Linked DNA regions of Homo sapiens. The protein of the gene in region 3 interacts with the protein of the main gene of each other region in a biochemical or structural test. Each region holds a gene or a part of one and is shown on either strand. Other genes may lie near its edges.

The links.
Region 1: of the proteins of UBL4A (region 3) and AMFR, one has a biochemical effect on the other in vitro, tested with the Homo sapiens proteins (one study listed by BioGRID).
Region 2: the proteins of UBL4A (region 3) and SGTA form a complex in vitro, tested with the Homo sapiens proteins (3 studies listed by BioGRID, with this or other methods).
Region 4: the proteins of UBL4A (region 3) and RNF126 form a complex in vitro, tested with the Homo sapiens proteins (one study listed by BioGRID).

The regions. Positions count from the first base shown.
Region 1 is NC_000016.10:56,408,546-56,415,545, forward strand, and holds part of AMFR (E3 ubiquitin-protein ligase AMFR), read right to left. Parts: intron 5,800-7,000; coding exon 5,707-5,799; intron 1,044-5,706; coding exon 879-1,043; intron 1-878. UniProt on the Homo sapiens protein: E3 ubiquitin-protein ligase that mediates the polyubiquitination of lysine and cysteine residues on target proteins, such as CD3D, CYP3A4, CFTR, INSIG1, SOAT2/ACAT2 and APOB for proteasomal degradation.
Region 2 is NC_000019.10:2,780,265-2,788,256, reverse strand, and holds the start of SGTA (small glutamine-rich tetratricopeptide repeat-containing protein alpha), read left to right. Parts: upstream 1-4,983; 5' UTR 4,984-5,024; intron 5,025-5,509; exon of another isoform or gene 5,510-5,687; intron 5,688-7,992. Other genes in the region: THOP1 (thimet oligopeptidase), read right to left, coding at 2,579-2,594. UniProt on the Homo sapiens protein: Co-chaperone that binds misfolded and hydrophobic patches-containing client proteins in the cytosol. Mediates their targeting to the endoplasmic reticulum but also regulates their sorting to the proteasome when targeting fails.
Region 3 is NC_000023.11:154,483,591-154,490,699, reverse strand, and holds UBL4A (ubiquitin-like protein 4A), read left to right. Parts: upstream 1-4,084; 5' UTR 4,085-4,115; coding exon 4,116-4,163; intron 4,164-4,366; coding exon 4,367-4,472; intron 4,473-4,720; coding exon 4,721-4,929; intron 4,930-5,050; coding exon 5,051-5,161; 3' UTR 5,162-6,983; downstream 6,984-7,109. Other genes in the region: SLC10A3 (P3 protein), read left to right, coding at 590-726, 1,618-3,193. UniProt on the Homo sapiens protein: As part of a cytosolic protein quality control complex, the BAG6/BAT3 complex, maintains misfolded and hydrophobic patches-containing proteins in a soluble state and participates in their proper delivery to the endoplasmic reticulum or alternatively can promote their sorting to the proteasome where they undergo degradation.
Region 4 is NC_000019.10:660,211-667,360, forward strand, and holds the start of RNF126 (E3 ubiquitin-protein ligase RNF126), read right to left. Parts: upstream 3,005-7,150; 5' UTR 2,912-3,004; coding exon 2,837-2,911; intron 1-2,836. UniProt on the Homo sapiens protein: E3 ubiquitin-protein ligase that mediates ubiquitination oF target proteins. Depending on the associated E2 ligase, mediates 'Lys-27'-, 'Lys-29'-, 'Lys-48'- and/or 'Lys-63'-linked polyubiquitination of substrates.

The DNA.
Region 1 (7,000 bases), on a different chromosome or scaffold from region 3:
AAATGCAATCCAGGCACAGGTTTACCACTACTACAACGTGATGTCAGCATTATGCAAGGAGAGGCAACAGTCTGAAAAGAAGGCCTAGAGCTGCAACTCCTGAGGTCACAGGCGGAGATTAAAAAAAACAGTTTGGGAGGTTAGAAGCTCCTGTTTGTGACTTCAAATGAGGGTTGAATGTGAAAGAAATAAAGGCTGTGAGAGTGAGATTAACTCAAACCAAGGTGCAAGGTCCATGTGGACTGGGTAAAGACAGGGAAAAACAAGGCCCTGGAGCGGGTTTAACTGAGGGGCAGCACTGTAGATGCACATTTATCTGGGACTCATGAGACTACTTCAGGTCACTAATGGGTTGAAGGTTCACTCATACAGCTATGATCTGAAACCAAGTGACAGATCTTGTACCAGACATAAAATGATTCACTTCGCAAACAAGGAAGCTGAGGGAGCTAATTCAGTCCTGGCCCGGGGTGGAAATAGTATAAACTACTCAGAAAGAAGAGCTCCACGAACCAGAGTAAGCTGGGAGAGACAGAAGGAGACTAGAACAGAAAATATCTAGAAAAGACCAGATTTTATTGTTTATGTATCAAGGTTTCCTTGCACTGTGAACAAAACAGTCTGCATAGGTGAAGTGACCCCATGTTAGCAGTAAGTAAACACTATGGGGTTGGGAAGAAAGCTCCCCAGGAGACAACGATTCTGCATCTCTTGGCTGCTGTAGAAAGTTCTTCAAGAAACAGGCAATGGGGGCCTGATCTAGAAGTCTTCCCAGAAGAGCTACCCTGACCATGCCTGCTGTGGCTCATTCACATTACACAATTCAAAGTTGGCAAACGTGGTGACTAAGCAAGCAAAAAGCTTGGCTAAAAACTCACATATTCAAATCGATCCTTGCAGAGCTGAACCATCAGGTGCAGAAAGACAAGTCCGGCAAACCAGAGGCACCACATGACCACCTCTTCCACTGTCTGGACATTCAGCACACCAAAGATGAAAATGAACTTGTAGAAAATAAAATTCCAAAATTTGTCTTTGAGATGCTAAAAAAGAAAAATGTTTATGAAGGTGAGTACCATCACACCTACCCCATTTGAGGGAAGTTACCATAACAAAAGCCGGCTTCTATGGAAGATATATTCTGCACTTGGCTTTCTAATACTTGTCCTCAAGAAAACAGAAAAAAAAAAAAAAAAAAAAAAAGCAGCCATCTGAAGAATGGAGGTAAGACACCCAGAAACTAATCTGTAAACTTTGGACTATAACCCTAAATCAATTATGGAATGTTAGCTATTCAAAGGATAGCGATATTAGTTTAGTAACTTATATATTAAGAAATAGGCCAGGCGCAGTGGCTCATATCTGTAACCCCAGCACTTTTGGAGGCTGAGGTGGGTAGACAGCTTGAGCTCAAGAGTTTGAGATGAGCCTCGGTAACATGGGGAAACCCCATCTCTACCAAAAAAAAAAATACAAAAATTAGCTGGGAATGGTGGTGCACACCTGTAGTCCCACCTACTCAGGAGGCTAAGGTGGGAGGATTGCTTGAGCCCAGGAGGTCAAGGCTACAGTGAGCCATCATCATGCCACTGCACTCCAGCCTGGGTGACAGAGCAAGACCTTCTCTCAAAAAAAAGAAAAAAATGCTTACATTTTTAATGCACAATGAAAAAGAATGGCAAGGGCTATCATTTTTACTACTTCTACCTTCCAGATTCTTACACAATAGAAAAGATTAGACTTTGTAAAAAAAATTCTTCAAATTAAAAAATAACACAACACAACCACTTGCCAGCCCATAATAAAGGCGGCATAAAAAGTACAAAGAAAATGAAAAATGCTGCCTTAACATTTTTATGAATTTTCTTGTCTTTTCCCTATGTACAAAACACATTACTTTTTGTACAATGCTTTCTTTCACCTATTGTATTGTTAGAACCTTAACAATGTCAATGAATATTCTCTGAATATACCAATATACCGTTTCAATGGCTAAAGATGGACACTGAAACTGTTTTAAAATTTTCACCACGCAAAAAAAACATTATAATGAGGGCCGGGCGTGGTGGCTCATGCACGAAATCCCAGCATTTTGGGTGGCCAGGGCAGGCGGATCACTTGAGCCCAGGAGTTCGAGACCAGCCTGGGTAACATGGCAAAATCCTGTCTCTACTAAAAATACAAAAATTAGCTGAGCATGGTGGCACAAGCCTGTAATCCCAGCTACTTGGGAGGCTGAGGCATTAGAATTGCTTGAACCTGGGAGGTCGAGGTTGCAGGGAGCCATGATCATGCCACTGCACTCCAGCCTGGGCAACAGAGCAAGACTCTGTCTCAAAAAAAAAAAAAAATTGTGATGAATATTTTTGTATGTATCTTTGTATGAGTTACTTCAGCACTGTCAAATCAAAAATTGCAAAGATTTTTATGGTTTATAGTAAAATCTACCTAACTTCCAAAGCAGTCCTGTAAGTGTACATTCCCATGGGCAGTGTGTATGCATATTTGCTTCACTGTACTCTTTTACACAGAGGGCTTCCAGTTTTAACAATCTTCACTAACCCTGAAATAGGAGAGCAATAAGGAGGGTCTAGTTCCCCCACATGTTAAAATAGACTATCAAGCCGTCTAGGGGGGTCAGGGAGAACTGACTGAAGAGGATAAGAATGGAAGCATGATTCTAAGTATACTTTTTTTTTTTTTTTTAAAGAGACAGAGTCTCACTCTGTCATCCTGGCTGGAGTGCAGTGGCCCAGTAGTAGCTCACTGCAGCCCCAAACTCCTGCGCTCAAGCGATCCTCCCACCTCAGCCTTCTGAGTAGCTGGGATTACAGGCACATGACATCATGCCCGGCTAATGTTTTTTATATTTATATTTTGCAGAGATGGGGCCTCCCTCTGTTGCTAAGGCTGGTCGCAAACTCCTGGGCTCAAGTGATCCCACCTTGGTCTCCCAAAAGAATGCTTTTATATGTAATTTGGAACCATGTAAATGTTTCACAAATTCAAAAAATAAACACAAAAAAGCAAAATATACTACAAATTAACAACGTGACTCCTTAAAGATTTTGAGAACTTAAACACACTGTACTCTGACCAGATATCTTTTGTAGAGAACAAAATAAAGTGGAAAAAAATCATAGAGTATGCCCTAATTCTATCCATCAAAAGGGCAGAGACACCCTAGTGGTAATGAGCACACTCAGCCAGTATACAGCTTGGCTTCTAAATATCATTGCCCAATAACGTGAACTAGGAATCGTTGGTGAAATGTCTGTTTCCAGACCTGGTGCAGGGAAAGTACAAGGTGAACTTAGGACATTTTGTGCCCTGGTTTTGAATGACACTGCCACTTGGCTCTGCCATTTAGTTTCTGTGTGACCTTGGGAAAGTCACTTAACATCCCTGTGCTTTAGTTTCCTCATCCATACAATAGGTCTTATAATAACAGCATATACCTCATAGAATTGTTGGGGGAATTATACATAATATATGTGAAATGGTTAGACAAGTGCCATACTAGGCACTAAGCACTTAAAAACGCATCAAAAAGCTTCCTTGCTCTAAACCTCCACTTAACATTTTAATCATTTTAGATATTCGATGTCTTTGCCTCTAGCATTACTCTATTTCTAGAACTTTAAGCACCCAAGAGCAAACCCATGTCAATCCTAGAGATTTCTAACTCAAAATGGTTCCTAATTGATGCTACTGGATGACATTAAACATAAATAAACCAACACAGAACAGCAGGGAAGATGCGATCGATGCTGAAAAAAATTAAAGTGGAGCTGGATAAGAAATATGCTCATTATAATTACCTCTGGATCTAGTTAAAAAATCTCTAAAATACTCCAAGGTTATACTTTCTATAAATTTCAACCTGATAGAAGTAACCTTTTAGGGAAAAGAAAGTATATAAAGCCCACTGGTGCCAGATCAATCCACCAAGCCTGCCTGGCCTGACCAATTTCTGGTCCACAAATAAAAAATTTGAAGAGAAACTTGAAGAAGTATCAAAAGAAGCATTTAAGCCAGTAGAAGTGGCTCACACCTATAATTCCAGCACTTTGGGAGGCTGAGGCGGGCGGACTGCTTGAACTCAACAGTTTGAGACCAACCTGGGCAGCATGGTGAAATTCCGTCTCTACAAACACCTAAACAATTAGCCAGGTGTGACACATGCCTGTAGTCTCAGGTACTCAGGAGGCTGAGATGGGAGGAGACTGCTTGAGCCCAGGAGGTTGAGACTGCAGTGAGTGGAGATCGCACCACTGCACTCCAGCCTGGGTGACAGAGCAAGACGCTGTCTCAAAAGAAAAAAAAAAAAAGGCAGCATTTACAACCTATCTGGGAGACCTCTAGAGTCGATACTGGAGAAAGTGCTGAAAATGAAAAATCTCTGAGAATACAAAATAGTCCTGTTCACAATGGCATCCAAGGGCTCAACCACCAAGTAATACATGTCAGCTCTAAACTAGGACTTCAGCTGATTTTATAAAAGGAAATTTGGGTTGAAAAGGGTAGGTAAGGAGAGAATGGAACACTCTGAACATAAAGTAAAGCTGCTGTTGTGCTTTTCATATAGTAGGTTCCTGTGTTTTATCACTGGGATAAGATAGAATAAAACACAATTTTGTTCTTATGTTGTGATTTTGAAGGCCAGTTCTAAATTTTTACTTTAAAACATACCATGCCAGGCACAGTGGCTCACGCCTGTAATCCCAGCACTTTGGGAGGCCAAGGCAGGCGGATCACCTGAGGTCAGGAGTTTGAGACCAGCCCGGCCAACGTGGCGAAATCCTGTCTCTACTAAAAATATATAAATTAGCTGTGGTGCACACCTGTATTCCCAGCTACTTGGGAGGTTGAAGCAGGACAAGTGCTTGAACCCGGGAGGCAGAGGTTGCAGTGAGCTGAGATTGCGCCACTGCACTGCAGCCTGGGTGACAGAGCAAGACTCCGACTCAAAAAAAAAAAAAAAAATTATTCTACACCCTACCCACTCAAATCCTCAGCGAACTGCCAATCTATACAGTATGCTTGTGGCGTAATTCTTCATTGAAAGCATCCCCTGCCCATTCTGAGTCACTTTCCAATGTCAGACAATCTCACCCAAAACAAGAACAAATCTCCTAATTTTATGCTTTTAGAACAATGATTCTTAATTCACCTTCCCACAGAGAAAATTATCTTGGTAAATTCTTTTGGAAAAGAACCCACATTCTACAGAGTGACATTTATGATCATTCAAAATAAAACAAATCTAGGCTTCTTTAAAAACGACATTCCTAAAAGTCATGAAGAAAAACAGCTATAAAAAACAATATTGGGACAACTTGGCTACACTGAATATGGACTGTGGATTAGACAAAGTATTTTTTCAATGTTAAATTTCCTAATTTTAATCACTGTGCTGTAAAAATGCCTTTGCTCTTAGAAAATACAAACTGAAGTATTTAGGGGTAAAGGGGTAATGATGTCCACAACTTACTCTCAAATGAATCAGAAAAAAAAGTATGTATAAATAAAAAGTGAAGATTAAAGCAAATGGAACAAAATATTAACAACTGGCGAATCTGGATAAAGGGTATATAGGAGTTTTCTGTAGTATTCATGGAACTTTTCCACACATCTGAAATCATAATACAAAGTTTAAAAAAAAAAATCTAGTCACAAGAATCCATCCTTTCAGTGTAGACTTACCTGTCTCTCACTCACTCGAAGAGGGCCAAACACAATACACTGGATGAGCTTAGCCACCAACATCAAAACACAGCAAGCGGTATTTACTAGAACCTGTAAACAAATCAGAGAAAGGAAGTTTATTTCTTCCTGCTGAAAAATAAAAGCAGCTCTAAAAATCTCATATTAGGAATTCAGCCATCATTTCCAGTGACTGAGCCTTTCTGGTTCTCTCCCAATGCAAGATAAGGAATATCTGAAAAGGCACACTGTTCTGGGGAGTGGGTGTTAGGGATGAGGACCGGAAAGAGAGGCACCAGCTCACCAGCTAAGTCACAGTTCTTGTCCCAATACGCACCCTCCAGCAGGCCACCTTATCTTTCATCCTTAACTGAATTGTGTGTATACTTTGTACTGTATGTGCAAAACTACATTAACCTCGTAAACTGCAGGTCCTTCCCAAGTACCTCATTTCCGACATTATTTTGACAGCCTTGAAGAAAACTGTTCTAGAAATTGAAGTTACCGTGAATAGTAAAACCCAGCACCCAGAGATTCTGCCCTGCCAAACAAATAGGAGGTAGGGGTAGGAGTGTGGATGGTCACAAAAAAGTCTCATCATAAGGAACTAATAATATAAATATATATATACAGAGAGAATATTTTAATATTTATTGGAATGGAAAAATCTTTCAACCAAAAGATAAATGTTCTCCATGCTTGGTGTTGGCTTTGAAGTAAAGGTTTTGTGGCACTGCAGCAGGGTGGAATGGGTTAAACAGAAGGAAAAGAAAACCGGCGAGAGGGGCCAAGAGATGAAAGGCAACCTGGGGATACCAATGCAAAACCAAGGCCTTCTTCAACAGTCTATGAGAAAACTTGAAAAACAAAACAAAACAAAACAAAACTCTAAATGATGAATATCCTTACACCTAAACGCCAAATCTTAATGCTTACAAAATGGAAGAGTTGGCTGTCCCCAACCCAGAGATTAGTGTGGGGTATCACATTACTCTGAATGACTCCAAAAAGCCAAAAGGACCTTGATAAAAACAGTACAGATGACTTGTTGAGAGCAAATGAAAAGGAACTCCAATTCAATGTAAAGCTGCTTCTGCCTCTGATTCACTACGTTTACCATATTACCCTTGCCAAGTCATTCTTCCCTCTACTTTTAAAAGCAAATGATAATTTTAAAGAAGAAAGAAAGGGGATAGAGGAGAGTAATTTAAGAAAGCAAGATCCCTGAGATCACCTCAGGGTCTGTTTAGTACCTCATGCCATCCCTCCTTTGGGAGAACACTTAAGGGCAGCC
Region 2 (7,992 bases), on a different chromosome or scaffold from region 3:
GTTCTGGGATTCTGGCAAGAAACATTAACTCTCAGGCTTCCCACCTGCAAAACGGGAACAATTCAGGGTGCAGAGAACAAGAACTGTCTAAGAATTCAGTGAGGTATGAAGGCAAAACATCTTGTATCCTGAATACCACCAGAAAGTTTTCAAGAGGTAGCTGTTATTACAGACCATGCTCTCCTGTCCAAAAAGTCTTGGGGCCGGGGACATTTTAACATTCAGAATTTCCCCCCATTGTAGAACAGTATTAATAGAGTCCAAGTGCCATGTATTCCAAATCACTAGGGAGGCTGAGGCAGCACTCCGAAATCAAATTACTCTTTCTGCAGTGAGATGCAGGAATACGCACCAGGGTGTCTCTCTGTCTGCACTGTGGCCATTGGGGCCGGATCGTTTTCTGGGGTGGAGCTGTCCTGGGCACTGCAGGGTGCTGAGCAGCGTCCCCGGCCTCCATCCATTCCATACCAGGAGCGCCCCCCAACTGTGACAACCACAAATGTCCCCAGACACCGTCCAGTGTCCCCAGAGGTAGCACAATCACCCCAGCTGAGAATCAATGATATTCGCTAAGTGGGAAAAAGAAAGGCTCTCAGTCGGTCAGTTGAGGTCATTTTCTGGCCAAATGACTTTGCTGTAAACTTAAGGCAAACCTTTCAGTTTACAGAGTATTTAGGATTTTAGAACTGCAAAAAAGGGACTGTGGATCTACATTAAACCGTGGGGTAAAGAAGAGCTTCAGGGGCTCAGAAAGGATGGAGATGGATGGGAACTGGAACTGTCAGAAAATTCTCCTGCAGGAGTTAGGATTTGAAAAACTTGTGGACGTCAGTTCATCCTGTAAATATTTACTGATTGTGCCAAGGATCCAGTAGCAAACAAGGCAGACAACATTCCTTCCTTCCCAAGGCCTGAATATCCCTGACTATCATTATTACAATTATCACCCTCATCGCAATGGGCTGGACAAAGAGCTGGGGGAGTGTGGCTGGGCAAGAGAAAAGCCAAGGATCAGGCAAGGAGTTGCTTCAACAACCTGAGTGACCTTCTAAAACCCAGGCCGGGCACGGTGGCTCATGCCTGTAATCCCAGCACTTTCGGAGGTCGAAGCAGACGGATCACTTGAGGTCAGAAGTTCGAGACCACCCTGGCCAAGATGGTGAAACCCCATCTCTACTAATAATACAAAAATTAGCCAGGTGTGACGGGCGTGGTGACTCACGCCTGTAATCCCAGCACTTTGGGAGGCCGAGGCGGGTGGATCACGAGGTCAGGAGATGGAGATCATCCTGGCTAGCACCGTCTCTACTAAAAATACAAAAAAAATTAGCTGGGCGTGGTGGCAGGCGCCTGTAGTCCCAGCTACTCAGGAGGCTGAGGCAGGAGAATGGCGTGAACCTGGGAGGCGGAGCTTGCAGTGAGCCGAGATCGCGCCACTGCACTCCAGCCTGGGTGACGGACCAAGACTCTATCTCCAAAAAAAAAAAAAAATTAGCCAGGTGTGGTGGTGGGCGCCTGAAATCCCAGCTGCTTGGGAGGCTGAAGCAGCATAGCTTGAACCCGGGAGGCGGAGGTTGCGGTGAGCCTGTGTGAGCAGAGATTGCACCACTACACCCCAGCCTGGGAGACACAGACTGTCTCAAAAAATAAACCAACAAATAAATAAATAAACAGTACACAGGTCACATCGCCCCTTTGCCTCTAAATTAAAAGGGTCTTGGCTGGGTACAGTGGCTCATGTCTGTAATCCCAGCACTTTGGGAGGCCGAGGCAGGTGGATTGCTTGAACCCAGGACTTCAAGACCAGCCTGGGCAACATGGCGAAACCTCGTTTCTACAAAAAATTAGCCAAGTGTGGTGGTGCAGGCCTGTAGTCCCAGTTACTCAGGTGGCTGAGGCGGGAGGATTGACTGAGTCCAAGAGTTCGAGGCTGCAGGGAGTCGTGATCGCACCACTGCACTCCCGCTTGGGAGACAAAGTAAATAAATAACAAAATTAAAAGGTCCCCTCGTTACGTTCCAGCCAAACTGACTTTCTGCTCTCCAAACACGTTCCCTCCTCCCGGGACGCCTCCTTCCCCGGTCTTGGCAGGACACTTGCTTCTCCCAATCAAGCAAGTCGACGCTCACCTCTTCAGAAAAGCCCCCCAGGAACCACCCTCTCTCTAAAAACGTGTCCCTGGGACTGCCCCGTTCGTGTTTATCTGCACCAGAGCACCGATCCCTCCCTATCTTCGATCCTCTCTTATTTAATTTTTGAATGTCTGTCTGTGGCTCTAGAATTCCAGGAAAACGGGACTGGAGTCGTTAAATCACGGCCTCCCCAGGGTCCGCCACGGGGCCCGACCCATCCGGAAGGGAAGCGCCATCAACTTTGCAGAATGAATGAAGCGCTGGAAAAGCTGGTTCATTCATTCGGCAAACGAGAGAGCAGGGTCGTCCACCTCCCCCGCTGCCCCTCCAGCCCGGCCGAGGGTGGCTCGGGGGTCGCTTCGCTCCAGCCTTAGGCCCAAGTCGCGACCCCGGGAGGAGCGAGGGTGCAGGGGACGCCCGGGTCCGGCGAGCGGGGTAGTCGGTACCTGCGGGGGGCTTCATGGCGGGTGGGTCTGCGCCTGCGGCTCCCTCCCTCCTTCCACCTGCTACGCGTCCAGCCACCTCGGCCACTGAGGCCGCCTGCCTCGGCCCAACCGCCGCCACCGCCGCCACGGCCGCCTGAGGACCAAGGGGCCCGCCGCCCGCGCTCCCGGGGCATGCTGGGGCGGCGCGCGCACAGGGAGGGCAGGACGCACGCGCCCCTGAGCCCCGCCCACAGCTAAAGGAGGAGGGCCGGGAGTGCGCTGGAGCCCTCTGCGCACTCGCCGTAACCCTCCCGGTCCGTTATTGGTCTCGGCGGTGCGTGGGCGGAGCCTCTTGCTCTACCATTCCAGAGCCGCTGGGGTGGCTAGGACGGACGGTTTCCTTGGAAACCGCGCACGCCGCTGACGCCTCTGAGCCTCTGCGCGGCTCATTGCGCTGAGACTTCGCTTGGGCTTCAGGCTACCGCGTTAATGTGTACTTGCCTCGCTTCTTATAGCTGTGTGTTGGGCCAGTGTTATTATTGATCGCTTACTGTATATCCCAGGCCCACTTTCCAGCATCTGAATCCGACGAATCAATTAAATTAACCAGAAGTTTTGGTGCTTTGGTTGTTTTTGAGACGGAGTCTCGCTCTGTCGCCCAGGCTGGAGTGCAGTAGCAGCAATCTCGGCTCACTGCAACCTCCGCCTCCCTGGTTCAAGTAATTTTCCTGCCTCAGCCTTTCCAGGAGCTGGGACTACAGGCGCCAGCCCCCACCCCGGCTAATTTTTGTATTTTTAGTAAAGAGGGGGTTTCACCATGTTGGCCAGGATGGTCTTGATCTCTTGACCTCGTGATCCGCCCGCCTCGGCCTCCCAAAGTGCTGGGATTACAGGTGTGAGCCACCGCGCCGGGCCAAGTTTTTTTTTTTTTTTTTTTTTTTGTCAGAAACAAAAGCAAGTAAACGGATTCATGTCAAATAACAGGTGTTGTGGAACAGTGCAGTAGCCTGACCTACATGCAGTGTTGTGGGTTAAAACAAAAAACATCTTGAACCATCTGTCTTGAACTGTTAGGGCACCCAGAAAAAACAATGTACTACAATTAAACTGGCAAAAACCAAAACAACCGACCTCCTTTCTTCCCTTTTTTTGTTTTTGTTTTGTTTTCTTTTGCTTTGGAGGGGCTGGAGGGAGTCTCGCTCAGTCGCCCAGGCTGGAGTGCAATGGCGCGATCTCGGCTCGCTGCAACCTCTGCCTCTCGGGTTCAAGCGATTCTCCTGTCTCAGCGTCCCGAGTAGCTGGGACTACAAATGCCCGCACCACGCCCGGCTAATTTTTGCATTTTTAGTAGATACAGGGTTTCACCGTGTTGGCCAGGCTGGTCTCGAACTCCTGACATCAAGTGATCTGCCCCCTGGCCTCCCAAAGTGCTGGGATTACAGGCGTGAGCCACCACGGCCGGCCTCACCTCCTTTATTTCTGCAAAAGAAATTAAAATAATCCACGCCATTAATCGTGCATGTATTTTGAGTAGGACGAAAATGAATTGGGAGAACATTTCTGGCAACTGTAACTTAGATGGTGATCAGTTTTCTGTCGTCCTTGGAAATGTCTCATCACATGTCTTGAGCAACACCAAGATTAATTTTACATCGGCGTTCATTTTCGCTGTTCCCTGTGCCTGGGGTCCGTTTGGACTTTCCTATCCTTGAAATCCAAATGTAAAGGATGATCTTTCCTACCCATCCCATGCGACTTAGCTCCCAGTGACAATCACACTACCTTCATTTTTTTTTTCTTAGTGTTTGCTGTGAAATTTGTTTCTCTATTTATGTACTAGTTTATTAGTTTATAGTCCGTCTACCCCAATGCAAAATAATGAGAGTAGACACTTTGCTGGTTTTTATGGCTGCTTTGCAATAAATATTGAATGAATATTAGGCACCTGCTGTCTACAAATGGCTCTATACTCACAAACGTCTCACACTGCATGAAAGAATGCATTTGTGGGTGAGTAGATGGGTGGGTGAATAAATGAACAAAGATAGTAAGCGGGTAACACTGACTCCCATTCATTGCGCAGCTGTGACGCTCTGGAGTCCAGGTGTCCAAACGCGGCTGCACCACGTGGCCGGCCCAGCACCACGTGGTCAGCTCGGCGACCGGCTGGAGTCAGCCACTGTTCCACCGTGCACCGCTTCATTCCCGCTCTAGAGGGCAAACCAGACCCGATTTCCGGCCTCCATTAGGTCGCAGAGGTCAGTTGCCCTAACAACCAGCTGGTTCCCGCCTCTACGTTGCGTCACTTCCTTCCACGCCCGCCTCCATCATTAACGCGCCTGTGCAGAAGGGAAGCAACTCCGGGCGCCTTTCTTTTGCGCAGGCGTCGCGCCCTGGGGCCGGGGCCGGGCGGCACCGCGGTGCGCAAGCGCAACCGTCGGTGGGTCGGGGATCGGTCGCCTGAGAGGTGAGTGAGGGGCACTGCGCTGAGCCTGGTGGGTCTGGGGTCTGCGGCTCGGGGCCCACGGGGCCCCAAAGCTCGTAAGAGTTTGGGGATCGTGAGGCCAGGGTCACCGCGACCCGCGGGGTCCTGTGAGTAGGCGGTGCGGAGGGGAAACTGAGGCCGGGCGCCATCGGGCAGGCCCTTCGAGCCCTGATCTCCCTTCCCCAGGCCCCAGGTCCTGGAAATGCTGGTCCGCGGCCTGGTGGCGAGGACGGCGGGAGGGGAAGGCGCCCCGCATGTAGTGAGCGCTCGCTGGGTGTTCGCTGCCGTTCCGCTCTTATTAACCGCCTGGAAACGTCGTCCCTGTGACTCAGGGACCCCCGTTTGTGGGGACTGAAGTCGGAACTCTGGTTCCAGCGCCGCCAGTCCCTACCTGGGTGACCTTGCCCAGCCTCTTGGCTTCTCGGAGCCTCAGTTTTCCCCTCTGTAAAACGGGCGTTGTTCAAAAGTCCCTGCCTAGGAGAAGGAGAGCCGCAGGGTCCAGCGGAATCTGAGAACTCCAAAGAATTAGCAGGCGTTCGTCTTATATCATGTTTAGAGTCTTCTTCTGCATATCGTGCTAGAGGTGGGGGAAATCTGGGATTCAGGACCGTCCACCACCACCTCCCACCCGCTGTGTAAACCTGGGTGAGTCGCCTTCCCTCTCTGAGCAAACTGTTCCTTCTTTCGCAAACGAGTTGTAAAAGCAGATGCCTCGGAGGGTCATTATGAGGATAAACCCACATTCAATTATTTGATCAGGTGCCTGGAACTTGATAAGAGAGAGCTGGCTTGAGAATAGCTGTTTTTGTTATTAGGTGCCAGAAAATTGCAGTGTAGTGTGCCCTTCAGAGGTTGAATGATTGTCCCATTTTCTTTTGTTTCTGTCTCTGATTATTCCTTTTGTCTGCCTTTTCCCTCCCTTGACCAGTGGTTCTCAACCAGGAACAATTCTGTGCCCCAGGGATTCTTGGTGACATTTGTGCTTGTCATGATTTGGGGGACCCCCTGGTTTGGAGTTGGTGGAGGCCAGGGTTGCTGCTCGGCACCCTGCAGTACCCAGGACGGCCTCACCCCAGAAAATGATCCAGCTTTAAATGTCAATAATGCTTTAAAAACCCTACCATACGGGCTGATGACCTGAGGTCAGGAGTTCAAGACCAGCCTAGCCAACGTGGTGAAACCCCGTCTCTACTGAAAATATGAAAATTAGCTGGGCATGGTGGTGTGCACCTGTAATCCCAGCTACTCAGGAGGCTGAGGCAGGAGAATCCCTTGAACCCAGGAGGCAGAGGTTGCAGTGACCCAACATCATGCCACTGCACTCCAGCCTGGGCGACAGAGCGAGACCCTGTCAAAAATAAAAAAAAAAAATCTACCCTAGATCAGTGATTCTTCACCAGCATGGGCAGCTGGGACTGTGTGGGCCCGGGAAATCGTGTACAAAGTTTTGTGTGTGCACCCAATTTCGTGCAGAGAGAAATGGGTACTTTGGAGTTTAGCTTCTCAAGTCAGACTGCCTGGGTTCAGAACTCCTCATTTTCATCCTCGGAGCTGGGTGGTCTCGGGTGGTCCCCATCTTTCCAAGCCTCAGTTTTTCTTCTGTGGAATGGGGATTATAATAGTAACCACCTCAGGTGTGTGAGGATTAAACCAGGCAAGGTATCAGCAAACTGACCAGAAGGCCAAATCCACCTCTGGCCTGTTTTTGTGAATGAAGGTTTGTAGGAACACAGCCACACTCCTTGGTTTATGCGTTACCTGTAGTTGATTTCGAGCTAAGAAGGCACAGTTGAACAGTTGCCATAGGGAACTTAACGCCTGCAGAGCTGAAGACAATCTGGCCCTTTTCAGAAAAACCTTTGCTGACCCCTAAAATAAGCTATCGCATGTACAGCACTTAACTGGGTGCCTGGAAAGCTGTAAGCACGCCAAGGATTTGAGCTGAGGTTTATAATTAAATCTTCCTAGAAGGGTGAATGATTCCAAATGCGGGTGAGCTCTGCCCCAGATTGGAGGATCCTTGAGAGCTGTCGTCTTACTCAATTCTACATTTTTTCTTTTTTATGCCAAGACCCAACAGTGGCTCTGGTAGGAAGTGCTCAGTACAGGCTGAAGGAACAAAGGGGTGGTTTGAGATAGGGTCTTGCTCTGTCGCCCAGGCTGGAGTGCAGTGGCACAATCTCTGCTCACTGCAGCCTCGACCTCCCAGGCTCAGGCCCTCCCACCTCAGCCTCCTGAGTAGCTGGGACTACAGGTATGCACTACTACACCCAGCTAATTTTTGTATTTTGTTTTAGAGATGGGGTTTCACTGTGTTGCCCAGGCTGGTCTCAAACTCCTGGGTTCAAGTGATCCTCCACCTTGGCCTCCAGAGTTCTGTGATTACAGGCGTGCCCCACTGCACCTGGCCCGTTTTCTCTTTTACTGAGGTGGAAACAGAGACCCAGAGAGAAATGGCCTCCCCAAGGAACGTGACCATGTGGCTGTGAATTTTTCAACAATCGCAGGCTTTCCTGAGTCCATAGGGTTTAGACGCTGCCAGATGCTGGCGTTCAAAGGGAAGATGGGTCTGTCAAGAGATAGAAAGCCTTGTAAGAGATGCTGGGCCAGAGATAGGAGTTTGCAGGAATACTAGATTCTCTCCTGGCGGAGTTGGGCAGGGGAGGTGAGCACTTGAGTTTGAGTGGCATGTACAGGGTTTGGTGTAGGCCCCACAGATGACCCCCAGCTGGTGAGAGGCCTCCTATGCACACTCCTGGGGTTGCAAGGAGCAGTTGAGAGCTTTTATGTGTGCAGCGATCTCCTGGTGGCATTTTAGAAGGAAGTAGGCTTCGATGTGGGGAGTGGGCAGGAGACTGAGCTAGAACTCGGGTATCCTAAGAGGGAGTGAGGAGCAGGGCACCCGGCTCTCCTGCCCTGCTGTTGGTGAGAAGCACCGTGGATTTGGGAT
Region 3 (7,109 bases):
CGGGGAAGGGAGGGGCTTCGGTGGGGCGGGGCCCTGACAGGCCGAGCTCGCGGGCGACTGCCGGCCAGGCAGACGCTGCAGCTAAGCTGCGCGGTGGCTGTGGCAGGTGAGAGCCTCCGGAAGGGAGGCGGCCTCTGGCCCCGACCCTGCTCCGCGATCGCCCACTCGGGCGCCCGGCCGGGCCTGGCAGGGAAGGGCCGCCGCCGCCGCCGCGCGTTTGCGAGGCCTGGCGGGGCCGCGGGGCCCAGGAATGGCGTAAGGGGCCCCCCCAGACTCCGAGACGGCCCGAGCGGGTCGCCGGCTGTGGGACGGCGGCGTGCCCTTCCTTTCCTCCCTCCCAGGTTCGCGCCCGAGCTCTGCTAGCCACCCGTCCGACAACTTCCGGACTCCCAGGTAGGGAGGAGCCCCTGTTAGCACTGCCAGTTACCCCGAACACTTGGCCGTTTTGGAAGGGCCGGGACTCCCTCCCCTGCCTTGTGGGTGCATCTGCTCAAACTCTGTCGGCCCCTCAAGCAGAAATGGTGTGGGATCTGGGCCAAACCCCTCTTGGAGTGACTCAGAGCCGCCAGCCCTACTGGAGGGATGGGGCATGGGGTGGATGGCCCCTAGCCTTTCCCTTCTGAGCTGGTTTGTATCACCCCGGTGGCTTCAGTCCTGGTGCCTTCATCTTAGCTCCTGTACTTTGCCTCTCCCACCCCACTGGTTTTCCTGCCTCCCTCTTCAGAGGTAAGACACATGGCTGGACCAAGGCCTCCAGGGTAAGTGACCCGAACTTCAAGCCAGCAGAGGCCATGTCATCCTAAGCTAGGGATAGGGGAGGCTCGCCGGGATGAGCCTTTGGCTTAACCTAACCTCTGCTCCCTACTTCTGCCTCACCCCAGTCTCAGATGACGGGAGGCCAATGCCAAAGACGGATAGGATCTATAGAGGCAGTCCTCTTCTAGGACTGGGACACAACAGTGCATGAGGCAACTGACAGGGGTGATGTAAAGCTGTTGTGTCTCCATCCTGGTTGCCCCAGTTCTAGCAGGTGATGTGACACTACGGTGGTCGCTGCCCAGATTGAGAAGTGGAAGGGGGTGTTGCTGGCCGCTAGAAACACTCATAATTCCACTGAGTTTGAGGCTCTGGTAGGGGCGCATGTGGGCATGGGAAGGAGCCCTGCACTCTGAGCACAGCCTCTCAGATGTAACGCAGTGGCTCTGGGAGGTCAAAGTCTCAGCCCAGTGGGAGCTCTGACAAAAGGAGGAGAAACCCCCCCAGTAGACATGTGGCTCTGTCTGATCCACTCCTGCCGCCCCTTCTGGCAACTTCCCTGGGGAGGGAGGACCTGCTTCCCAGCAGGACCTTCATCGAGTCACTGTAGGGGCAGGTAGAGTGGGCCAGGGAGCCACAGCTGAATGGCACTCAAGGGCCATCACTAGGCATTGCCTCTCCATTCCTGAGTGTGGGGCAAGGGTCCCTGCTGAGTTTTACTCTTAGCAGTGGGCTTCCAGATCCCCATGCTCCTGGGTTCTTGACTGCCTCCCTCTTCAGAGGTAAGACACATGGCTGGACCAAGGCCTCCAGGGTAAGTGACCCTCACCAGCTGCCTCTCTGTGTCCCTTACCTCCTCAGGGACAGCCCTGCCATCAAGGAAGACAGCACAGGACTGGGACCCACCCATGAACCCTTCTCAGGACAACCCAACAGCACCAGTGGGGATGTTCTCCTAAGCCGCAGAGGGCCTGGGCACGCCATCCGTCCTCCAGGAAGAGCCATGGTGTTAATGCAGGACAAGGGCAGCTCTCAGCAGTGGCCTGGTCTGGGGGGCGAGGGTGGTGGCACAGGTCCCTTAAGCATGCTCAGAGCTGCCCTGCTGCTCATCAGCCTGCCATGGGGGGCCCAAGGGACAGCCAGCACCAGCCTCAGCACTGCTGGGGGTCACACCGTGCCACCGACTGGGGGCCGCTACTTGAGCATTGGAGATGGCTCTGTGATGGAGTTTGAGTTTCCTGAGGACAGTGAGGGCATCATCGTGATCTCCAGCCAGTACCCAGGCCAGGCCAACAGGACGGCGCCTGGCCCCATGCTCAGGGTCACCTCCCTGGACACAGAGGTGCTGACCATCAAGAACGTGAGTGCTATAACCTGGGGAGGCGGGGGTGGCTTTGTGGTGAGCATCCACTCAGGCCTGGCTGGGCTGGCCCCACTCCACATCCAGCTCGTGGACGCCCATGAGGCCCCGCCCACACTGATTGAGGAGCGGAGAGACTTCTGCATCAAGGTCTCACCTGCTGAAGACACGCCTGCCACCCTCAGCGCCGACCTGGCCCACTTCTCGGAAAACCCAATCCTCTACCTGCTCCTGCCTCTTATCTTTGTCAACAAGTGTTCGTTTGGGTGCAAAGTGGAACTCGAGGTTCTGAAGGGGCTCATGCAGAGCCCCCAGCCCATGCTGCTGGGCCTCCTGGGCCAGTTTCTGGTCATGCCCTTGTACGCTTTCCTCATGGCCAAGGTCTTCATGCTGCCCAAGGCCCTGGCTCTGGGCCTCATCATCACCTGCTCGTCGCCTGGCGGCGGGGGGAGCTACCTCTTCAGCCTCCTTCTTGGAGGGGACGTCACCCTGGCCATCTCCATGACTTTCCTCTCTACGGTGGCTGCCACTGGCTTCTTGCCTCTGTCTTCGGCCATCTACAGCCGCCTGCTCAGCATCCATGAGACGCTCCACGTGCCCATCTCCAAGATCCTGGGGACCCTGCTGTTCATTGCCATCCCCATAGCCGTGGGCGTGCTGATCAAGTCCAAGCTCCCCAAGTTCTCCCAGCTGCTGCTGCAGGTCGTCAAGCCCTTCAGCTTTGTGCTCCTCCTGGGCGGCCTCTTCCTGGCCTATCGCATGGGGGTCTTCATCCTGGCAGGCATCCGGCTACCCATCGTACTGGTGGGTATCACGGTGCCCCTGGTTGGCCTGTTGGTGGGCTACTGCCTAGCCACGTGTCTGAAGCTGCCAGTGGCCCAGCGGCGGACGGTCAGCATTGAGGTAGGGGTGCAGAACAGCCTGCTGGCCTTGGCCATGCTGCAGCTATCCCTCCGCCGCCTTCAAGCTGACTATGCCTCCCAGGCCCCCTTCATTGTGGCGCTGAGCGGCACCTCCGAGATGCTGGCCTTGGTCATTGGCCACTTCATCTACAGCAGCCTGTTCCCAGTTCCCTGAGGCCTCTGGGTCAAGCTTTCATCAGCCCCAGCCCCCACACTCCACCAAAGTTCTCATGCACTATGCACTCAGAAAAATCCAGGCTTATTTTTTTTACTGATTTTTTATTCTCCAGCTTTCAGTGCCAAAGAGGCCATGCTGAGTTAGGTAGGTGGGCGCTGCCCAGAAAATATATTTCAATAAAAGAGAGAAGCAAGCTTGGGTCCCTTCTACTCTTTGCCCTTTGGGGCCTGGGCGTGGGGGTAGAAAGAGTGTGCTGGGTAAGTGTGGACCAGGGTGGAGGGCCAGCTTGGGTGACACGGTGACCCCTGCATAGGCTTTCCCTATCAGCCCTCCCCGGGGGTGTCCCCACTCTGGGAGAGGTGGGAGGATGAGGGCAGAGGCGTAGCCCCCCTGCCCCCTCTCAAGCTCAGTGGAGCGTTTCGCAGCCAGACCAGAAAGGAGGAGGTAGGAAGCCACCAGACAGGGAGCGGGGGCGGGCCGTCTGTGGGTATGCAGGGCCAGGCGCCGCCAGCAGTCCTGGCGCGTGAGGTGGGCCAGGCAGTCCGCGGGGGCGAGCGTACCTTCTGGCCCTCCCTTCTCCATGTCCCAGCTCCCAGATGACGCCAACCTGGCCCGACTGGTTCCTGCTCCCAACTCCCCCGCGTCGTTGCTTTGGGAGGGGTCCGCCGGCCAGGGCGGTCGATGCGCGCATGCTAGGCGGGACCCCGGGGGGACTCCTCCCGGGGCGCAATTGGGCCGGGGGGCGGGGCCGGGGCGCGGACGGGGCAGGAGGGCGGGGCCGGGAAGCGCGGGCGGCGGGCGCGCCCCTCTCGCTGCTTCCGGCGGCGGCGGGCGGTTCCAGCGCGCGCCCGGGGCGGCGGCGCGCGGCGGGGGGTGGTTGGGGTGCGCGCCGGCCCGAGTGGACGCCGTCGCGACCGCCATGCAGCTGACGGTGAAGGCGCTGCAGGGCCGCGAGTGCAGCCTGCAGGTAGGGTCCCCGGGCCGGGCCGCCGGGTCCGGCGCGCTCTCTCGCCCGCTCCTGGCAGGGGGACCGGCAGGGCCGAGGGCGGGCACGGGGCGGCCGGGCCGAGGGCCGGGAGCCGGGAGAGCTGCCCTCGGGGGCGGACGCGTGGGCTTCGCCGTCTGGGGGCCGCGGGCTCAACCCTTGCCTCCCACCCTCCGCGCGGCCAGGTGCCAGAGGACGAGCTGGTGTCCACGCTGAAGCAGCTGGTCTCCGAGAAGCTGAACGTCCCAGTGCGCCAGCAGCGGCTGCTGTTCAAGGGCAAGGCCCTGGCAGGTACCCAGGGAGAGGAGACGCCCGGGGAGCCCCGCAGGAAGCGGGACCGGGGTGCGCGGGCCGAGGCCAGCAGCCGTGTGTCGGGTCGGGGTGCGGGCGCCAAGCGCCACATGACCCCAAGGGAGGCGGCCGCATGCCTCACAGCCGGATGCCGCAGCGCTCCGCTCCCGCCGCCCGAGGCGGCCTCGCGCCCCGGGCCACCCCCACGGCGGTGGAGGAGGAGGAACCCATCGATCTGTCTTTGGCAGATGGGAAACGACTCTCGGATTATAGCATCGGGCCCAACTCCAAGCTCAACCTAGTGGTCAAACCCCTGGAGAAGGTGCTACTAGAAGAAGGCGAGGCCCAGAGGCTGGCCGACTCCCCACCCCCGCAGGTCTGGCAGCTGATCTCCAAAGTCTTGGCCCGCCACTTCAGTGCGGCAGATGCCAGCAGGGTCCTGGAACAGCTACAGAGGGTGAGAAGGGTAACCCTGGGCATCCTCTTCAGGCCCAGTTGCTCCCAGCCCCTACCTCTGTTGCAGTGTATGCCCCCCCACCACTGGCAGCCCCTGAATCTTCCTGCCCTTCTCTCCCCAGGATTACGAGAGGTCCCTGAGTCGCCTGACGCTGGACGACATCGAACGGTTGGCCAGCCGCTTCCTGCACCCTGAAGTGACTGAGACAATGGAGAAGGGCTTCTCCAAATAGAATTCTCGGAGCATGGGGAGGTGCCCAACGCCAGGCTACCGCTGCATGTCGCACTAAGTGTGTTCTCCTGTTGCAGTTGGGCTCATCATCATCATAGCTGGCATGTACCTGGCTCTGGCCAGGTGCTAGGCACTCCTCACAGCTTGACCTGGGTTTGCTTCCACACCCTCAGAAGAGGAGAGCCGGCACAGCAGAGGCACCGGCGATGAAGTGGCACAGCCCCAGTCGGAATCCAGCGGCTTCTGAAAGTGCCTTGGTGTGAGAAGGAGGAAGGGGCCGCTTGGAGAGCTGGGCTCTCGCATGTCATGTTTAGCCCACTGAGAATATACCCTCAGGTGACTCCCTCCCGATCCTGAAAGGGAAAGCAGCTGTCACCTGACTTCTGGCGGGTCCAACATAGCCCTCAGCTTACCTCTGCAGGAGGCCAAGTGACAGCCAGCCCTGGAACCCCCCGACCCCCGCAGCTGCTGCAGCCAGTGTGCCAGTGTGCGTTCGACAAATGGAAAAGCAGATTGGGGCCAGGGAGTCAGCAAGGCACCCCAGCTCTGTGATGTGACTTTGGGCGAGTCTCAGTGCCACTTGGTCCCCAGCCATGGACTCTATACAGTGAGGGCCACTCACCGACCTGAGTCAGTGTCCTCTGTCTCACAGGGCCCCTCTCCCTTCTGTTCAGTAAACAAACTGAAGCCAAAAATGAAGCCGTGGCCAAGTGTGACCCAGAGATGGGGTGTCCTGGCCCTTAGTGACACAGCTCCTCTCTGGGGCACCCTATCTGCTTGTCTCGTCCAGGAAGCGTTAGGGCTGATGGGTGACTCAGCAAGGCAGTGTCAGAGCTGGGACTGGGCGTAGGCCTTTGTCCTCATCCCCAGCACTGGCCTCCCTGTGGAAGATGAACATATCCCAGCCACCTGTGTACAGGGGCTCACTTTGTGTGCTCCTTGTTGCCTGAGAAGAAACCTTGGGGTGCCAGGGTGGGGGCAGAAGCATGGACTGGGTTCCGGTTCATCCTCCTCCACCCTGCCGTGTGTGTGGGCACAAGAGGACATCTAACCACCTGCTCCTTGGAGGAGGCCCCCAGGGGTGGTAGAGGCTGGAAGGAAGCCACATCAGGAGGACGCCACTCCGGCCCTTCACCCTTGCCAAGTGAGCTGCTCACAGTGTGGTCAGGGCTGCGCGTGCTGGAGGCCCTCCTGCCTGGGCCTTGTGGGGCAAATATTGGGTCCCCAGGCTGGAAAGATGGACAGAGGCCCAATGGGTGAAGGCTTTGAAGAGCACACAGAAGCCCCTGGCCCCCCACGAGAGCTGGAGAGCCATGTATATGGCTTCAAAGCCACCTACGGCAGGGACACACTCGTGAGCATGTGTGGCCTGCAGTTCAGGTGATACATTTACCAGTGTTCTTGTTTGTGTGGTGCCAGGAAATTGATTTTGGAAAAAGTGAAATAACATTAAAGGTGAATGTGAGGCTTCTACTTTTATCCAAAAGGAGCTATATTAGCTAGGCTGTTTCTGATATCCAATCATTGGTTTAACAATAAAGGCAATTTGTTTAATCAGTTAACGGAAATTTCTTGGCTTATGAAAGTGAAAAGTCCAGTGGTATTGGCATTGGCAGCAGGTGAGCAATTTCACCCAGTGTCTTCTGCCTCCCTCTGCGTTGGTATCTGCTACATCCCAGGCCACCACCTCCGAGGATGAAAAGATGGCTGCCTGCAGCTTCCACGGAATCCCTCCCTCACTGCCAGAGCAGCATCTTCTCTGTGTACCACCTCTGCTGTCTCAGATGCCCCCAGCAAATAAACACTCTTCTCGTTGGTCAGAACTGGATTGTGCGTCCAATCATTTTGGCTGGGGTAGGGGGTAATTCTCCGTCAGGGCTGGCTCCCTGGAGCTAGGCATGGGGCCACTTCCCTGGACACACATGGGCTATGCAAGGGACAGAAGGCTC
Region 4 (7,150 bases), on a different chromosome or scaffold from region 3:
ACCAGATGCCACGGGGAGCGAATCGCATCACTAAACCCACTTGGCAGGTGAGGAGACTGAGGCCAAGGCTGCCCAGCAGAGAATGACCCAGCTGCGCGGGGCCTCAGCCTGATCCCAGAGCCCAGGACAGCAAAGGAGGCCCGGAACGGCCCAGCTGCCTGGGAGAAGCCCTCGTGGGCAGGCACACAGCCCATGGCAGCCAGTCCCCCCTGCGTCAGAGGCAGGCAGGAGCTTCCCGACAGCCAGCCCAGGTGTCTCAGCAGCAGCAGTGCCGCCCCTGACTCAGCCGCCGGGCAAGCTCCCCAGCGGCAGAGACGCCCCGTTTCGAGGGCACTGGTTGTGGCTGGGGACTTTCCCCATTGCCAGATACGGAGCAGCCGTCCCTCCCCAGAACAAACGCCAGGTGTGCCCATTTCCCAGCATAAAAAATTCGTTTTTGAGACAGCGTCTTGCTTGTCACCCAGGCTGGAGTGCACTGGCACCATCACGGCTCACCGCAGCCTCCACCTCCCAGGCTCAAGCGCTCCTCCCACCACCTCAGCCCCCGCCAGTAGCTGGGACTCCAGGAGTGCAACAACACACCCCACTAATTGTTTTAGTCTTCTGTAGAGACAGGGTCCTGCCACGTACGGAGAAGTTCTGACACTGCCATGCTGTCTACGGGCGCCTTGTTGCGTCCTGCTCCAAAGGCACAAGCAGATGCCCTTGGGATCACCCGCGGGGTGGACACGGGCAGGCCCCCGCAGCCCTCTCTGCAGTTATTTGCTCTTAAGGAATCTACCAACGTCCATGATTAAATATTTGTCAATCACTGTTCCATGCTGGCTCCCTGGCCAGCCTGTAAATTCTGTGAGGGCAAAGACCACAGCGGCCTGTCACCACAGAGTTCCTTTCACTACAGGAAGGCCCTCCCCAGGCCCAGTGACAGTCGGAGGAGGTCAAGGTCCTCCGTGTCCAAGGCCACGGGGCGAGGAAGTGGCTCCACCACACCAGGATCCAGTCCTGTGCGGGCTCTAGGAGCAGCTAAATGTGCAGCCGAGTCAAGGCAGTGTCGGCCCCCCACAGCCACCACTCCAGGCTTCCCAGGGGCTTCCCAGGCCTGTCCCAGGGCTCAAGGGGCTGCAAGGGGCTGCCCTGCAACTCACCCAGGCTGGCGGGCTGTCAGGCAACCAGCCTCTCCTGCCACGGCCAGTGGGGACAGAAAGCTGGAAGAGGCAAGAGCGAGACCCCTGGGAGACAGAGGAGTAAGGCAAGGCTCAGTCTCAGCTCCCCAACCTTCGCCCCACACCCGAGATTTCACTTTATTTGTTCCTCCTGCTGGGGAGGGGAAGCCCTGTGGCTTCAGTAGAGAGGAAACCACACCTCTCTCTTTCCACTCCTGGGCCTGGCCCCGCTCTCCCGCCATGCCCCAACTCTAGCACTCGCTCCTCCTCTGTGACCCAGAGACAGGCGGCTTCTCCTGACTCCCTCCAGCCCCTTCCTGGGTCTCTACTCCCGGGGAACTGCACTGCTTCTGGGGGGCTTGGACTTCTCTTACGGGTCAAAGCGTAGCAACAGCCGGGCGGCTACGTACACAGCACAGTAAATCCTCAATGCCTGCAGCCTCTTCCCCTGGGCACAGGGTGGGGAGTCCAGACCCCTCCACCTCCTGCGGCTGCTCCCCTCAAGCTGGCCAAGCGGCTCCCGACTGAGCCGGCTCTGCCACTTTCCCGCTGAGCCACCACGCGCCTCAGTTTCCCCATCTATAAAGCACGGGTGGCTCGACTAAATCACCACTTTGCACGTCAGCCTGGCGAAGGGCAACACGGGTTAAAAATGCAGACCACCGCCGGGCACGGTGGCTCACACCTGTAATCCCAGCGTTTTGGGAGGCTGAGCCAGAAGAATCGCTTGAGCCCAGGAGTTCAAGACCAGCCTGGGCAACACAGGGAGACCCCATTCCTAAAAATAATATTAGAAATGCAGACTGCTGAGCGCATTCCACACCTACTGACTCCGAAACCCTGGAAAAGGGGCCTGGAAATAGCACCTTCAACGAGCGCTGCTCCCACCTCCCCCAAGGTGACATCAGGTCCGCGTGGGAAACACTGCCCTAAACGAGCAGGAAGTAGCACTCGGCACGCCCAGGCCCAGGGTCCTCTTCGGTGAGGGGCGGCTGTAAACACCTGGAGGAAGGGTGGGCTGCGCAGCCAAGCCCCGGGAGGGGAGGAACGCAGGCTCTGCTCACAAAGCCCCGCCGGCGGGCCGCGGTCGGACCCCGGGACAGTGCCTGGGGCGTTCCGGGCCTGGGCCTGCCTCCAAGGCGGCGGCCAGGGCTCCACGAGGCGAGCCTGCAGCGAGGCGCCGGCGCCCCCAACCACGCGCTCGGCGGGGGTCCCCTGGCGTTATTCTCGGGGTCCGAGCCCCGCCAGGCCCAGCCCCTGCCCCGCGCCGCGCCACCGGGCAATACCCTCTCTCTGCTCGCCGGGCCTCAGTTTCTCCGTTTGCAAAACCAGGCTCACCGGGCTTAGGGATCCCACCTGGGATCCTCGCGGCCTCTCGGGTCGGGAACGCCGCGGATGTGGGGTCACCCGGCCGCGATCCCGCTGCGCCGCTCCGGCCAGGCCCTGCCTCCCGCCCGGGCCTCAGTCTCCCGCATGTACAGGACGGGGTTCGCGCGCGCACCGCCCGGGCTCCCCGCGGATTCAGCCTGGGCCGGCGCTGCCCCGAGCCTCAGTTTTCCCGTCGTGGTCAGCTCGCGCAAGAGGCGGGCGCAAGCGACCCCCACCCCGGCCCCGGCCTTGCCTCAGGCCTGCGGCGCAGACCCTGCCGCCCGCCGCCCCGGCCCGGGCCTCACCGGCAGGCGCGGGACGATCTCCACGGAGCAGCAGTGGCAGAAGTACCGTCCGGGATGCGGCGACGCCTCGGCCATGGCCGCCGCCACCTACTCCGCGCCGCCCGCCCCCCGCGCGGCACCCGCCGCCGGCCGTTTGCTGCTCCCTCGCCGGCCGACGCGCCCGCGCACGCTCACGCACGGCACGCACGGCACGCGGGGCGGAGCGGGGGCGCGGGAGCGGCGAAAGCTGCGTACTCGGCGGGCAGCGGCCCGGGCGACGGTGGCCGCTGAGAGACAAACTAGGCCCGGCCGTTGGGCGGGGCTCCAAGCGGGGGCGGGGCTTCCGGCGGGGGCGGGGCCAAAGCAGGCGGCGGAAGAGACGAGAAGCGGGGCGTGCGCGGGGCGGGGCCGAGGCCCTCCTCCCCTCCCGAAGCTGCCCAGGCCTTCGTGTCCCTCAGTGCTTCCCTACCTCATCGCCGTCTCCCCTCACGGTACTTCAGCCCACTGTCCCCACCGTTCCTGGGGCTCGCCAGGCGCCCTCTCCCCCGCCCGCTGCCCGGTGCAGCGCTCTCCCGACGCCCGCGTGGCTTTCTTCCAGGTCTTTGCTCAAATGTCAGCTTACAAGGTCTTCTCTGCTGCCCTCCTGCTCCGTGGCACTGATTCCCTCCCGATGCACTGTCAGGTCAGCTGCGCAGCAAAGGGATTTTTGGACCCGCAGCAGCGCCTGACACACAGCAGGCATTCCCTCAGCGCTGCGGAATACAGGCAGACCCGGGGCTCAGGGCGCTGTCTGGGCCTCACTGGGACCCGTGGGGTCAGACAGAGGCTGAGGTCTGTGGGTTGTGGCCTTGTTTCCAAGATGCTCCACGGGCTGACGGCCCAGGCGCCTCTCGGGTGCGGAGAAGGCAGGAAACCTAACCCCTGCTTCCAAATTTAATCAGTAGAAACGGTATCATCACCCAGCACAGGCCAGGATCATTTCTGAGGTTAGTTCTGGCCCAATCATGCATGCATTTCTTTTTTCTTTTTTTTTTTGAGACGGAGTCTCACTCTGTCACCCAGGCTGGGGTGCAATGGCCCGATCTCGGCTCACTGCAACCTCCGCCTGCCGAGGGTTCAAGCGATTCTCCCGCCTCAGCCTCTCGAGTAGCTAGGACTAGAGGCACCCGCCACCACACCGGCTAATTTTTGTATTTTTAGTAGAAACGGGGTTTCACTATATTTGGCCAGGCTGGTCTTGAACTCCTGACCTCGTGATCCGCCCGCCTCGGCCTCCCAAAGTGCTGGGATTACAGGCATGAGCCACCGCGCCCGGCCTCATGCGTGTATTTCTTTCTTCACTCAACACTCATTGAGCAACTACTGCACACCAGACCCTATGCTGAATGCACGCAGATACCCCCAGTCCCATGAGATTGGACAGGAGCGTGGAACTCAAGGGTGACTCTGGCTCTGCCTGGGGAAAGAGAGAGAGGGCTTCCGAGGGGTAAGGACATTGGAACCAGGGCTGAGGGATGAATAGGATTTGGTTGGAGTTGGACTTCCTGCAAAATGAGGCATTGGAGCGAGACTGTTGAGGAATTAAGAGTTGGAGCCTGTGCATTTAGATTTTTTGTTTGTTTGTTTGTTTTTTAGAGATGGAGTCTGGCTCTGTTGCCCAGGCTGCAGTGCAATGGCGCAATCTCGGTTCACTGTAACCTCCGCCTCCCGGGTTCAAGTGATTCTCCTGCCTCAGGCTCCCGAGTTGCTGGGATTACAGGCTGGGCACCACCACGCCCGCCTAATTTTTGTATTTTTAGTAGACGGGGTTTCACTATGTTGGCCAGGCTGGTCTCAAACTCCTGACCTCAGGTGATCCGCCCGCCTCGGCCTGCCATAGTGCTGGGATTACAGGCGTAAGCCACCGCGCCCGGCCTGCATTTAGGGTTTTGAATGTCCAGAGGTTGGGGACAGGGGCTTCAGCCTCCTTCCAGTCGTCTTTGCAGCAGCGCGAATCCAGTCATTCCTGCTCTGACCACCAGAGAGCGCACGGGCCCCGTCCCTGGGAATCCAGGAAAACCCCAGGCTGGGGAGGGGCGAGGCTTGCCAGACGCAGCCCCTGCACCAGCCTTCACGCTCCGCAAGTGCAGGAGGAGCAGCAGGCCTGGTTCAAACGACGCCAAACCACGAACTGGCTGTGTGTCCCTAGGCAAGTGGCCTAACCTCTGAGAAGGCGGCAGAACCTGACGGTTTTCCGTTGGCTCGGAGCAGACATGAGGACCGCTGGCACCTCCTCAGCCCTCTCTGTGCTCTGCTGCCTGCCCCGAGTCACCTGCCCCTCGCTGACCCCTCCCCAGCCTCACTGGCCCCCTTGGGTGGGCTAAGCAGGTTCCCACCTCTGGGCCTTGCAAGGCTGTGCCCTTCCCCAAGTCCCCTCTCCTTCCCCTGCTTTTTTTTTTTTTTTTTTTTTTTTTTGAGATGGAGTCTCACTCTGTTGCCCAGGCTGGAGTGCAATGGTGCGATCTCAGCTCACTGCAACCTCCGCCTCCAGGGGTCAAGCGATTCTCCTGCCTCAGCCTCCCGAGTAGCTGGGATCACAGGCATGCGCCACCACGCCCGGCTAATTTTTGTATTTTTAGTAGAGCTGGGGTTTCGCCATGTTGGCCAGGCTGGTCTCGAACTCCTGACCTCAGGTGATCCGCCCACCTCGGCGTCCCAAAGTGCTGGGATGACAGGCGTGAGCCACCGCGCCCGGCCCTTTCCCCTGGTTTTTAGGAGGCTGCCCCATCCACCACTGCACCCCACTTCTCAGAGCCCCCTTTCCATCCCCCACAGCCATCCTCACATCTGTGGGTTATTAATGGCGTCTCCCCATATGTGAGGCCAATACCCAGCGCACCAGTAGGTGTTCAGTAGATTCCCAAATGCACCAACAGTTGCCGAGTGTCTACTGTGTGCTGGGCTCAAGCAGGTGCTGGAAACACAGTGGGAATGAGAAGGAACGTAGGGATTTTGTATCAAACTAAGCAGGGCGAGGTGGCTCACGCCTGAGACCAGGAGTTCAAAACCATCCTGAGCAACATAGTGAGACCCTGTCTCTACAAAAATAGAATTAGGCCGGGGACAGTGGCTCATGCCTGTAATCCCAGCACCTTGAGAGGCTGAGGCAGGAGGATCACTTGAGTCCAGGAGTTGAAGACCAGCCTGGGCTACATGGTGAAACCGTGTCTCTACTAAAAATACAAAAATTAGCCAGGTGTGGTGGCGGGCACCTGTGATCCCACCTACTCAGGAGGCTGAGACAGAAGGATCACTTGAGCAGGAGGCAGAGGTTGCAGTGAGCTGAGATCGGACCACTGCACTCCAGCCTGGGCCACAGATGGAGACCCCATCTTTTTTGTTTTGTTTTGTTTTGTTTTGTTTTGTTTGAGATGGGTCTCCCTCTGCCGCCCAGGCTGGAGTGCAGTGGCATGATCTGGGCTCACTGCAAATTCTGCCTCCTAGGATCAAGCGATTATCCTGGCTCAGCCTCCCAAGTAGCTGGGATTACAGGCATGTGCCACCACGCCCGGCTAATTTTTGTCCTTCTAGTAGAGACGGAGTTTCTCCATGTTAAGTAGGCTGGTCTCCAACTCCTGACCTCAGGTGATCCGCCCACCTCAGCCTCCCAAAGTGCTGGGATCACAGGCGTGAGGCTAATCGTTTTAAATTTTTATTTTGTAGAGATAGGATCTGGCTATGTTGCCCAGAGTGATCTCCAACTCCTGGGCTCACGGGATCCTCCCACCTTGGCCTCCCAAAGTGTGGGGATCACAGGTGTGAGCCAGAGTGCCCGGCCACCCCTTTATCCCAAACACACCAAAAAGCAGGCTGCTCTTCCCTGAAGGCAGTAGCACATTGATCAAATCGGCCAGTGGGCACTGACACTGCTGCACACAAATGCACACACTTGCACCCTGCCCCAGGCCCCACCGGCCACCCTGGTTCCACAGACGGCACCGTTTCTCCCATTTCCTCTCACCAGGGACCTCGACAGGTGTGGGCTTGGTTCCGTGAGCTCTCTTAGCCCCTTTTTCAATTCAGGATCCCGTCCCCGTGAACCCTGGGGGCCTCGGCAAACATGAGACGAGAGGACTCCTAAAGGAATGACACGCGCCACTCCCTCCGGGGCAGAGAGGTGTGTTGACAGCTCATTCTCACGTCCCAGGCAGACCAAGCCCAGGTGGACCACGTCCCAGGCAGACCAAGCCCAGGTGGACCACGTCCCAGGCAGACCAAGCCCAGGCGGACCACGTCCCAGGCGGACCACGTCCCAGGCGGACCACGTCCCAGGCGGACCAAGCCCAGGCGGACCAC